Homo sapiens: one gene and its partners. The protein of the gene in region 2 interacts with the protein of the main gene of each other region in a pairwise test. Each region holds a gene or a part of one and is shown on either strand. Other genes may lie near its edges. The genes, in order: PTTG1IP, SLC22A23 and CBLIF.

Evidence for each region.
Region 1: the proteins of SLC22A23 (region 2) and PTTG1IP interact in binary tests that used the Homo sapiens proteins (3 or more experiments, as listed by UniProt).
Region 3: the proteins of SLC22A23 (region 2) and CBLIF interact in binary tests that used the Homo sapiens proteins (3 or more experiments, as listed by UniProt).

Annotation. Positions count from the first base shown.
Region 1 is NC_000021.9:44,853,051-44,856,797, forward strand, and holds part of PTTG1IP (pituitary tumor-transforming gene 1 protein-interacting protein isoform 1 precursor), read right to left. Parts: intron 3,315-3,747; coding exon 3,143-3,314; intron 2,207-3,142; coding exon 2,160-2,206; intron 1-2,159. UniProt on the Homo sapiens protein: May facilitate PTTG1 nuclear translocation.
Region 2 is NC_000006.12:3,455,518-3,459,264, forward strand, and holds the start of SLC22A23 (solute carrier family 22 member 23), read right to left. Parts: upstream 1,534-3,747; 5' UTR 1,043-1,533; coding exon 389-1,042; exon of another isoform or gene 186-388; intron 1-185.
Region 3 is NC_000011.10:59,843,759-59,847,505, forward strand, and holds the start of CBLIF (cobalamin binding intrinsic factor precursor), read right to left. Parts: upstream 1,742-3,747; 5' UTR 1,696-1,741; coding exon 1,617-1,695; intron 298-1,616; coding exon 121-297; intron 1-120. UniProt on the Homo sapiens protein: Promotes absorption of the essential vitamin cobalamin (Cbl) in the ileum. After interaction with CUBN, the CBLIF-cobalamin complex is internalized via receptor-mediated endocytosis.

The DNA of each region.
Region 1 (3,747 bases), on a different chromosome or scaffold from region 2:
AGCCTGGCCGGCCACCCACAGCCTCACACCCGCTGGGAGTCAGGGCACAGTAAAGGTCGAGCAACTTAAACACAGCTTGTGCTTGGTGATAACAGGTGCTGGGCAGTGTGTGCGTGTGTGCGCGTGTGCGTGTGTGTGTATCCACCTTGTCTTTTATTTACATTAACATTAGTCTGGCTGGGTGTGGTGGCTCATGCCTATAATCCCAGCACTCTGGGAGGCCGAGGCGGGCGGATCACGAGGTCAGGAGATTGAGACCATCCTGGCTAACACAGTGAAACCCCATCTCTACTAAAAAATACAAAAAATTAGCTGGGCGTAGTGGTGGGCACCTGTAGTCCCAGCTACTCAGGAGGCTGAGGCAGAAGAATGGTGTGAACCTGGGAGGCAGAGCTTGCAGTGAGCTGACATCGCGCCACTGCACTCCAGCCTGGGCGACAAGGTGAGACTCCGTCTCAAAAAAAAAAAAAAAAAAAAATTAGGTGCCAAAAAGCTCTTGACTCTTCCATTTCAAGGAAAGCACAATGCCTCCAGCCAAGGCCTGCAGAGATGCTGCTGGGCCCACGCTCCACGTACACAGGCATGCACTCGCTGAGGAGGGCAACCCTGGTGCTGCTCCTTATGACAGTCACACGCAGGTACCCGGTCACCACCCACTCCAGACACACACCGGGAAACAACAGGCGACAGAGAGGGTGGGGCAAGGACAAGGCAGCAGTGAAGAGAACCCAGAGAGTCAGCGCCCAAGCACACGGCACTCAGGAGACTGATGGGCGGGAACACATAGGAAAAAGCCTCTATCAGCCACTGGGCATCTCGAGGCCAGCAGCCAAGGCAGCCTCACGCCCCCAAGCCGACACTTCGAGACCGGCAGGACTCACGTGGCCTCAGGTCACAGCACAGTCACATGGAGGTGACTTTCCAAGGAGGCCAGAACTGACAGGGAGGGGACGTCCCGGCCAGTGGGCAGAGCCACCCAGCGTTTACAGTCCAGGGCACCAGCAGCATGGGGCCTCTGCAGCCCCCATGAGAGGGAACCCAACGCCAATCACCTGCACCTGACGGAGGCGCCGCTCACAGTGGCTGCTGGGCTTTGCCGTCCACCCCCCACCCGATGACCGAGAACCGCAGCGACGTCCTCATGCCCCCAGTGGGTGGGACCCTAAAATACCACAAATATATGATATTCCCTAAAACAAACAGAAGACTCAAAACACGTGCATTAGTCAGAAAAGGCTCTGAAATTTTCCAATTAGGTTTAGCCTTTAATATACTGCTTCAAGGAAAGCACCGTGGGCGCAGGACGACAGATTCCTGAGGCCCACGGCTGCCATGAACCCAGGACCACGCACCTCGCACAGGCGAGGAGTCAGTTCCCACCATGTCCATGACGCCACACAACCACAAACCCAGCGCGGGAGACGCCCATGACACCACACAACCACAAACCCAGCGCGGGAGACACTAGACTCTTTGCGGACTTTAAAATCATACAGAATCAACGAAGCACGGCTGGGTGGTGGTGTTCAGTGTTAAGCAGTGAACATCACGTGGTTTGGGGGAGTATAGATAACGTAATGTGTATTTCCAATTCACTCCAACTAAATAAAAGGTTTACACTTGGCAAATACATTCATTCTGGCTCCTTCAAAGCTCCTCTCCAAAATCTCTCCAGACACAACCAAACAAGAACAGAACGCCGAGGCTGGGCGAGAAGGAGCAGGGCCGGTGCTGGGGAGTGCTTGGAAGGAGCGCCTGCCACACTCAGAAGATGGCAACGAGCAACGCTCCCGAGGATGAGAGGGCCGCCCTGAAACTCACAGCACCTCGGCTACGCAGGCGTGCCCACAGGAAGCCAAACACGACGGCAGAACAGCTGCAGACTTCCAGCCCAGAAGTCTTGGGACTCGATAAGCAAACAGCTATCTGAGAAAACAGACTTCATGAAGACGACTGGCTGAGATAAAGATATTCTTAGGAGTGAGTTCACCACAGAACCGCTGGGGACAACCGCCAGCTGCTCCTCTCTGGAGAGACGTCCTTCTGTTCCGATGGGTGAACCCACAGCCCCATCTCAGGCCACACTGGCACTAACGAGGACCGAGACAGCGTGCCATCGCCTCCCAACCAGACAAAAAGGAGGCGTGACCAGTCCTTACCATATTTTTTTCTGATTTCATCATGTCTTGTCTTCATCTCTGCTCTCCTAAAACACAGAGGAACATTATGAGCACCAAACGACAGCGCACGGTGGTGTAACTGCTAGACACGCCCTTCCGTGTCCCTCAGTGGGGGCGCCAGGTTTCTTCTGGTGGCTTCCCTCCAGTTCCCAGAGTGAAACCAGGGTGAGGACAAGCTTGGTCATCAGGCCACATACCCACCAGGACAGGCAAGGTGACAACGAACCCAGTCTTCAAAGGCCGTTCCAATGTATTACTCTACTCTTTTCAATAAAAGCAATTCAAATGCCCAATACCGTGATTTTTAAAAAGCTTTTTTCATACAAAGAAAACACAGTAAAAATCATACACCAGGTTCTGAAGATGGTGAGGAAAATGCGATTGTCAGCTTTTACTTAGTAGCATGTGACTTCAAGGTGACTACATGGAAAATCTGTCCCGCTTCCACCCTCGCCCGCCGCCAACCTGACAGTTGGCCCCTCAGGTCCTCTCCTTTGCCAGGTGTGGATTACACCACCTCCTCCTGGGGTTGCCCCAGAGCCCCAGCAAGCACTCAGGAGAGTGCTGTGTCACCAGGGAAAGGGCGACAGGAGAGCTGACCCAGCCACAGTCAGACGCTGTCCCCTCTGAGCCTCAGCTTGCTCTTGGCAAATGCTGGGCCTGGACGAGCCGCCTTAGCAGCCGTCACACACCCGTGTCACCGCGCACAGACTCAGCCTTACTGCACCGATGGGAGGACACCGGGCGAGGAAGCCTATAGAAGCAAGGTTCGCAGCCACTGCTAGGTTCCCATCACAGTCTCTCGCTCTCTACCACGACCTAGAAGATCCCCTGGGCACTATACACATTCTTAATTTCTAAAAACTGAGGAAAACTCAGGATGTATCCATGTGATTTCCATGGCCTTGCAGATCTGAATCCCCTCGAAGTAACCTTCCCAGCGGGCATCACCACCACCTCACCGTTCCTCCTGCCGTATCCGCCTCTCCTCCCGCTCACGCATGGCCTTCTCCTCACTCCTGTCCGGCTTCCGGCTCCTCTTCCTCCTGCAGCAGCAGCAGCAGCAGATGGCAATGCCCAGGAGGAGGGTTCCCCCGACTACCGACATGGTGATGATCAGCGCCTCAAAGTTCACTGGAGATTCAAGCACCTGGAGTTAGGGCCGCCCCAGACACAGAACCCACCCAGCACAGCAGCCTTCCCTCGCCCCTGGGGAACAACCTCAGGACACAGGAGCATAAGGAGGAAAGCCGCCTCGGCCAGGCTGCTGGCTCCTGGCGTGTGGAGAGCCTGTGGCCCTGCCTCCACCCCACAGGGTCCCGCCCTCTCCAAGTCTCCTTTCAGCCACACGTTCCTATCTGTGACTTAGAATTTATTAACAATTTATAATATTAACCATAATGAACTGAAGTGACAGGGTAGTCTGTCTCAGCTGAGTTTGAAAAGGTATTTCAAGCCTGAGAAAAGTTAACTAACCAAAATTCCAAGCTACATACTCAGACTCTCGTAAGACATTCTAAACTCACAGAAATGGAGGTTAAGCCTGATGCAGCTTTCTTTTTTTTTA
Region 2 (3,747 bases):
TTTGTGGGAGACCCAGGGACAACTAGCCGGGCAGAACAGGGCTGTGGTCCCGACTCCCCCAGCAGACCTTGAACGACGCCAGTCCGACTCCTCCAGAGGGGGCTGGTGACAGGTCAGCTGCCTCGCCCCGAGGGTGGGGGAAGGGCGCGCTTTCCATCCGCGTACTGGGACAGGAGTTTGGGTGCAAACTAGTAAAGGCTATGGTGCTCCCTTTACACCCAAGTAAAGGCATGTGGTTTGGGGGACGGAAGGAGATTAAGCCAATGCGGAATGCCCTACACACACTCTAGCACCACCACTTTGGGGACTTCGGTTCTCCCGCTGGCTCGGGCTTGGACCTCGGTCTGCAGGGAGAGGGTTGGAGGGACTGGGCGGCTGCGGCCCTTACCTTGCTGACCACGTTCTGGACGAGGCCGGCGCGGATGCCGTAGTCCCATGCGCGGCAGTCACAGTTGGAGGCGTTGTCCCCCTTGTCCGGAGGGGATGGCAGGGGTGGTGTGTCGCCTCCGTCCGCGCCGCTGCTGTTGCTCCGGTTGCCCGCAGCCTCCCAGGGGGCAGTGGCGAAGGGGGTGGTGGGGAGGCTGGTCCAGTTGCCCATGTCCCCGCCCCGGCCTGTGGTGGTGACCCCTGCCAGCTCGGTGCCTTTGCCGGCCCCGCGGCACCAGAAGTTGGGCTGGTCCAGGAGGAACGAGTCCGAGAACTGGCTGAAGCCGATGAACAGCGCCGGGATCCAGGTGAGCAGCACGAGGGTCTTCTGATAGCCCCCGCCCAGGCCCCCGAGGAAGGGCAGCACCGACCCGTCATAGTCCAGCAACAAGAGGCTCGGGGCCGCAGCCGCGGAGCAGCAGCTCGGGTGCGGGCCGCCTCCAGGATGCAGTGGGGGCAGCGGCTGGATCTCCGCGCCGCCGCCGGGGCCCGCGCGTCCCCCGAGGGGCGCCGAGGCCGCCGCGTCCCCGGGCGGCAGGGAGCCGTTCTCCTCGGCCGGGGCCGGCTGCCGCCCAGGCCCGCCGCCCGCCGCCTCGCGCCGCCGGTCTATGGCCATGGCCCGGGCCCGCGGCTCCCGCAGAGGCGCATAGAGCGCGGCGGAGGCTCCGCGGGCGCCCCGGGCACAGCGCGCCGGGCCAGGCGCCTGCAGCCGCTGCCGCCGAGGAGGGCCCGCGGCTCGAGAGAGAGCGCTCGGCGGCTCCGGGTGCGTCAGGCCGCCCCCATGTCACCCGCCGGACCCCGCGCCCCGGGCGCTGCGGCCCCGCTCGGGCGCCGGGCAGAGGCGGGCAGAGGCCGGCCGGGCCCTCAGCCGCCGCGGCTCATCAGTTCCGCGGCCCGGGCGCCGGCTGCCGAGCCCGCCGCTCTCCGCTGCTCCGCGCCGGACGCGGCAGGAGGAGGAGCCGGCGCCGCGCCCGGCCCGCGCCCTTGCCGGCGGTTCAGGGCCCTGCGGGCGGCGGTGCGGGCAAAGGCTGCTGCTCCCGGGGTGGCCGCGCTGTATTTCTCCGACTTCGGGCGCCTCCCGGAAGCCGCGAGCTCTGGACCCAGCCTGCCGAGCCGGCCGCGCTCTCCAGCTCCTGGAGCCGGCCCCACTCCTCCTCCTCCTCCTCCTCCTCCCCCTCCTCCCTGCCCCCCGGCCCGCCCCCTCTCCCCCCGCCGAGGTGGAGGTAACCGCGGCACCTGCTGCGCTCGGCTCCTGCTCGCGAGCGCCCCCTCCAGCCCGGACGCGCGGCCGCCGCCGCCCGGGATCCACGGGAGGGGGGCGGGGGAAACGGGACACCCCGGGCCCGCCTGGCTGGAGGATCCCCTGCCCGTTGCCCGTTTCGCGCCGGGCGGGGCGGGGGAGGAGGAGACGCGCGTAGCAGGGGTCGCCGGCCGGCGACGGGTCCCGGCAAAGTCGGCGTGCGCTGAGAACGTGTGGGCCGGGTCTTCTCTGAGGCTGGGCTCCCGCAGCCGCGCGGGCCCCCCACCCACTCCGCGCGCGCCAGGTCTCCGTGACCTCTGTCTCTTCAGAGGTGCCCGGCGGTCCCGCTGCCCGCGCCCCGCTCCCAGTCCCAAGCCCGAGGGTCTTCAGCCTTCGGGAACAACCCTCTGCGCTTTTTCCAGGAGCGAATAAGGTTGATTTTTGTGTCCGTGGAGCAGGGTCAAGGAGGCGCCTTTGCCAATTTCAGGTCGCCAGTCCCCCGCAGTGTCTGGCCACCTGCGACCCGCCGCACCCACTCCCAAATCGCCATTTCTTCCCCCACTCCTAAGTGCATGCGATGTAAGCACGATGCTGGGATATATCTCCAACACAAGTTATAATACACACAGTATAAACGTGATGGCATTCCCCACCCCCTCCCTAAGATCTTGTATTCACGTTTGGAACGCCGTGTGCACAGGCGCACACATCTATACTCTCACACAAGAAGACAAACCTCTCCCTCCTCTCCTGCTCCAGCGCCAACCTTGCCCAGCCAGCGCTGTATAAATAACACCAGCCCTGCGGCAAACGGCTACATTAGCATATTTCCTCCTGCACCCAGCGCACGCACCAAAGAGAATTATCCGGCACCTTTCAACCCAGCGTCCCCACATTTTGGAGGCATTTCATATTCTGAGAAGTTTATTAATGGAAGTCTTAAATGGAGCAATCCATTTCTAGTCTTATTTGGGGCAAAAAAAAAAAAAATGTTTAGCTTTCCAAAAGGATATATTCTAAGCTCCATATACTGAATGTATTCTTTTGCATTTTCATTATTTGCTCAGCTAACCGCTGCACAATTTAGTGGAATACATTTTTAACCTGCAGTTCAGTGTTAAGGGCAACATGTGTTTACTGCATAAAATGCTGGCACATACGTACCAGAGAACTATTTCTGAAGGCTGCCGGGGGGCGGGTCTTGGGGGACAGGGGAGGTTGTGGACCTTCCTGCGTGGCCGAGAAGGGGTGATTAGATAACAATGGGCGGAAGGGGCCCTAAGGGCTGCAAAAGACACCAGACCGCTGAGAAATGGGTCTGGAAACCACATATATAAAGAGCTGGGGGCTTGGGGCGGGGGGGGACACGATAGTGCACGTTGTGTACGTGGTAATTTTTCAACTTCACATTATTTATTAGCTTAACTTTTCTTTTCCTTCCCTCTCCTCCCCTCATTTGAAGAGCTAATACATGCAAAGTTCTGACCTCCATGCCTGGAACAGAGTAAGTGCGCAATGAATGTTAGACATGTATTATTACCAGTGCTCCTCTTGCCATTACATACAATCCACATTTCTTTTTGAATTGAAATATAACTTTACGGATTTTATTTATTTTCCTTTCAGTGGCTGATTTTCCAGAAGAGGTCCACTTTGTGTCTGGCTCTGCCTCCCTTCCCCCACAGTCACAAGGACCCATTTGTTTTCTTGTAACTGATCACAAAAGGAGCATTGCCATTGACCTTAATGGCCCTTCCAATCAGAATAACTATCATAGCCAGCGTTTCAGAGTTGGCTTTCAAATTCACACTCTCACTCAGTCCTCACATTCAGCGCCCCAAGAAGTGGGCTTTCAAAGAGAAACAGCAAGGATCAGGTGACTGACTACCAGATCAAAGAGTTGGTCCCCAGCTGAGCCAAATATCTGGTTTTGAACCCAGATTTTCTGACTGGACATTACCGGATTTCTCCATTTCATCATACAGGGGCAACTATAGGGAAGAGTTTACAAAGATGTTTGTTAATGTGCATTTTTACGTGGGAGAAGCCCTGGCCCTAGGAAAAGAGTTTCATTGTGAAGA
Region 3 (3,747 bases), on a different chromosome or scaffold from region 2:
TTGGGTAGTTTATTTACAGTCAGAGGCAGCATTGGGGTGGGAAGGACGCTGAGTTGGAATCTGGAGGTGGTATGTGATGTGTGAGATTCAGGGAGAGTGCGAGCGGCTCAGATGTCTCACCGTTGTTGTCGCTGGACATGAGCTGGTAAGTCAGGAGCTTCTGGGCCTTCAAGTTGTAGGCTCCGGCCAGATTCATGGCAATCAGGATGCTGGGGTTTGGGTAGGCTGATGAAGTCACCGAGTTCTCCATGAGTACTTGTATTCCATTGACCAAGGGCTCCTGTGCTGAGGGAACGGCTGAGAAGAGGAAAGCCATTTACTCACCTTCTAACCCTCATTCCTTCTCAAAAACATTATCCCCGTGTCTTTGATGCTTTTTCTTTCTTTCTTTTTTTTTTGAGACAGTGTTACTCTTGTTGCCCAGGCTAGAGTGCAATGGCACGATCTCGGCTCACTGCAAACTCTGCCTCCCAGGTTCAAGTGATTCTCCTGCCTCAGCTTCCTGAGTAGCTGGGATTACAGGTGTGCACCACCACGCCAGGCTAATTTTTGTATTTTTAGTAGAGATGGGGTTTCACCATGTTGGCCAGGGTAGTCTCGAATTTCTGACCTCAGGTAATCCACCCTTCTTGGCCTCCCAAAGTGCTGGGATTACAGGCGTGAGCCACCTCGCCTGGCCATCTTTGATGCCTTTTAGGAGAACACTTGATTAGCATTAGTGTCCTAAGTCACTAAAGAGAAATGGAGAAAATGGTGAGATTTTACTTTTGAGGACAATTAGTTTCTACATCTTCTCAAATAATCCATATCCTTAAGAAAGTGATTTTTAAATTTAGTAACTTCAAGCAATATGGCTCATGACATTTCTCATAGTTTCTATCACTTTCCTGGAAATCACTGATTTCCTTGCATTCATTTTTTTCCTTACTCTTTCATGAAGAGTATTAAAGATTTGGGATATAATTTATCCTCAGTGAGTACCAAAATCTCTCACTAGTATGTAGTGGTGTCTGGTCACAATAGCCACTGAGTGTCTGTCTTTGTACCATCAACCATTATTCCTGCAGTAGTACTTCCATCTCTATTATTTTTATTTATTGATTTTTTGAGACAGGGTGCTGCTGTGTCATCTAGGCTGGAGTGCAGTGGTGTGATTATAGCTCACTGCAGCCTCGACCTCCTGGGCTCAAGCGATTCTCCTACCTCAGCTTTCTGAGTAGCTGGGACCACAGGTGCATGCCACTGCGCCCAGCTAATTTTTTATTTTTATTTATTTATTTTTTTTGTAGAGATGGAGTCTCACCATGTTGCCCAGGCTGGTCTTGAACTCTTGGGCTCAAGCAATCCTCCTGCTTCAGTCTCCCAAAGTGCTGGGATTACAGGTGTGAGCCACTGCACCTGGCCCCATCTCTCTTAATAAAAAACATATAGACTTGTCTCTCAAAGAACTTATGCTATTAAGTCAGGAAGGATGAACAGCACACAATCACACTCAGACTTACCCATTTTGGAATTCCTATAGTGATTGCTATTTTCAACCACTCAGTGTCAGAGGTCACAGCCCCTTCCCCAGGGCAACTGCTTCCCTGACCTCCTTGGAAAAACATCATACTCACAGCATGAACTCTGGGTCTGGGTACTAGTCCCAGCTGTAGCCCAGAGAAGGCTCAGGAGGTAGAGGGCAAACCAGGCCATCTCACTCTCTCGTCTATGTCTCTCATCCACAGGTACCGCGATTTGCAAGTGGAATATTTCTTTACCTTCTCTTATATGTGCTTCCCTTTGTTAAATAATCTGTCCCCAACCCAGCCTCTCCTAACTGCCCCTGTGCTGACCTCTCCTTTCCTGATACAAGTAAGTAAATTTTCATTTGCTTATCTAAGTTTACCGACTATAGACCCTCCAAGGTGTCTGAAGGTGACTTCTAGGTTGCACAGTCATATGAGAAACCTGGGGCTGGGTATGCAGTGAAGGCAATGTTGAGAAAATGTCCTTTACCAAAGGCCTGGGTCAGACATCAGGAAGTTTGGATAATGTGCTAGTATCAACAAGACCTCTTCTAGCCCTTATTGTATCCAATCAGTTACCAGGCTGCTTTTTAGTAACTACTTCACTGGGATTTAGGCCATTCATAGGCATCAGCTCATTTTATGATCCTAGACACCTGCTTTACAACATGTCCTTTTAGGCTCTCAGGCAGGGATCTGCCAGGTGACATCTGGCTTTGTGAAATTAATGATGTCTACCTGGACCTGGATTCTAGCCTAGACTCTTTGAAGTTGTTTGACTTTAGGCAAGAAATGGACCTCGGTTTCCCAGAAATGGTTTTGTTTGATTTCTCTTTCCTTATCTGGAGATAAAAGCCATCTCAAACACCCAAAGCTTTCAGATATTATCTTTTAAAGTAAGTAATTAGAAAATGTGAGATCCATTAAGAATACATATTTCAGATGTGTAGCTACATTATAATGCAAATTATACTTCTTTATAAGGGAGAACTGAAAATGGTATGTTGAAATTATAAAGAAAGGAGTTTTGTTTGTTTTTTTCCTGCATGTAAAGTAGCTCATTTTAAGGGGATATTCTCCAGTGGCGCCCATCTTAGCATAAAAGTCAAAGCCCTTTTCATGACCTATAAGACCTTAGAAGATCTGGCTCCTGGTTTCCTTTCTGACCTCAGCTCCAGGCGTTTTCCCCTTTGCTCACACCGCTCCCATCACACAGAACTTCTTGTGCCCCTTGAACACATCAGCTACCTTTGCACATGATGTCCCCCTCAGCCCAGGACCCTCTTCTTTTAAATAGCCTCATGGTGGCTTCCTCACATCCTTCATGTCTCTGCTCAGAGGTAAGCTTTTAGAGACGCCTTCCCAGGCCACCCTACATAAGATCCTACATCCTCACCTCCACTGACACCCCTCATGCCCCTCGCCTGCTATAACTCATTGCCCTCTGTCGCACTAAGTGTGTGGTTGTTTATCGTTTGTTTATCTCCCTACTAGAATGTCTGCTCCACGAGGGAGGGGCTTTGTCTCTTTGGCTCACTGCTCTATCCTTAGCCCTTACAACACTACCTAGCTCACAGTAGAAATAAAATACTTTTTGAATGAGTGAATTAATGAGCAAATGTAAGACATGGGTAATAAAGCATTTTTTCCCCCTTGGGAAACATGGGTGAGTTTTGTGAGATGAGAGCACAGGGTACATACTGGGGTGTGCTGGACAACTTCTAACATGGCCCTGTGTTTTCACCTCCCGGTATTCATGCCTTGTGTAGTCCTCTTCCCTAGAGTGTGGGCTGGCCTGGGGCCACATTCTATTATAATGAATATAATGCAGCAAAGGTGATGGGATGTGGTTGCAAAAGACCGATTTCCCTCTTGCTTGCCTTCTCTCTCTTGCCCTTCCTGCTCTCATGAAGGCAGCTGCTAAGTGTGAGCTGCCTTATGGAGAAGCCCACATATGGCCCCTGAGAGTAGCCTCCAGCCGATATTCAGGGAGAAAAGAACCCTTCCCCAGTGAGCTTTGAGATGAAGGCAGCCCCAGCTGACATCTTGATTGCAGCCCTGGGAGAGACCCTCCTAAGCCAGAGGACCCATGTAAACCCTCCCTGGACTCCTGACCCACAGAAACTGTGGGATAATAAATGTTGTCTTAGGCCCCTAAGTTTTAAAGTCACTTGTTATGCAGCAATATATATCCAATACATGGTACATGGTGGAAGATGAGGCTGGAAAGACAGTTGGC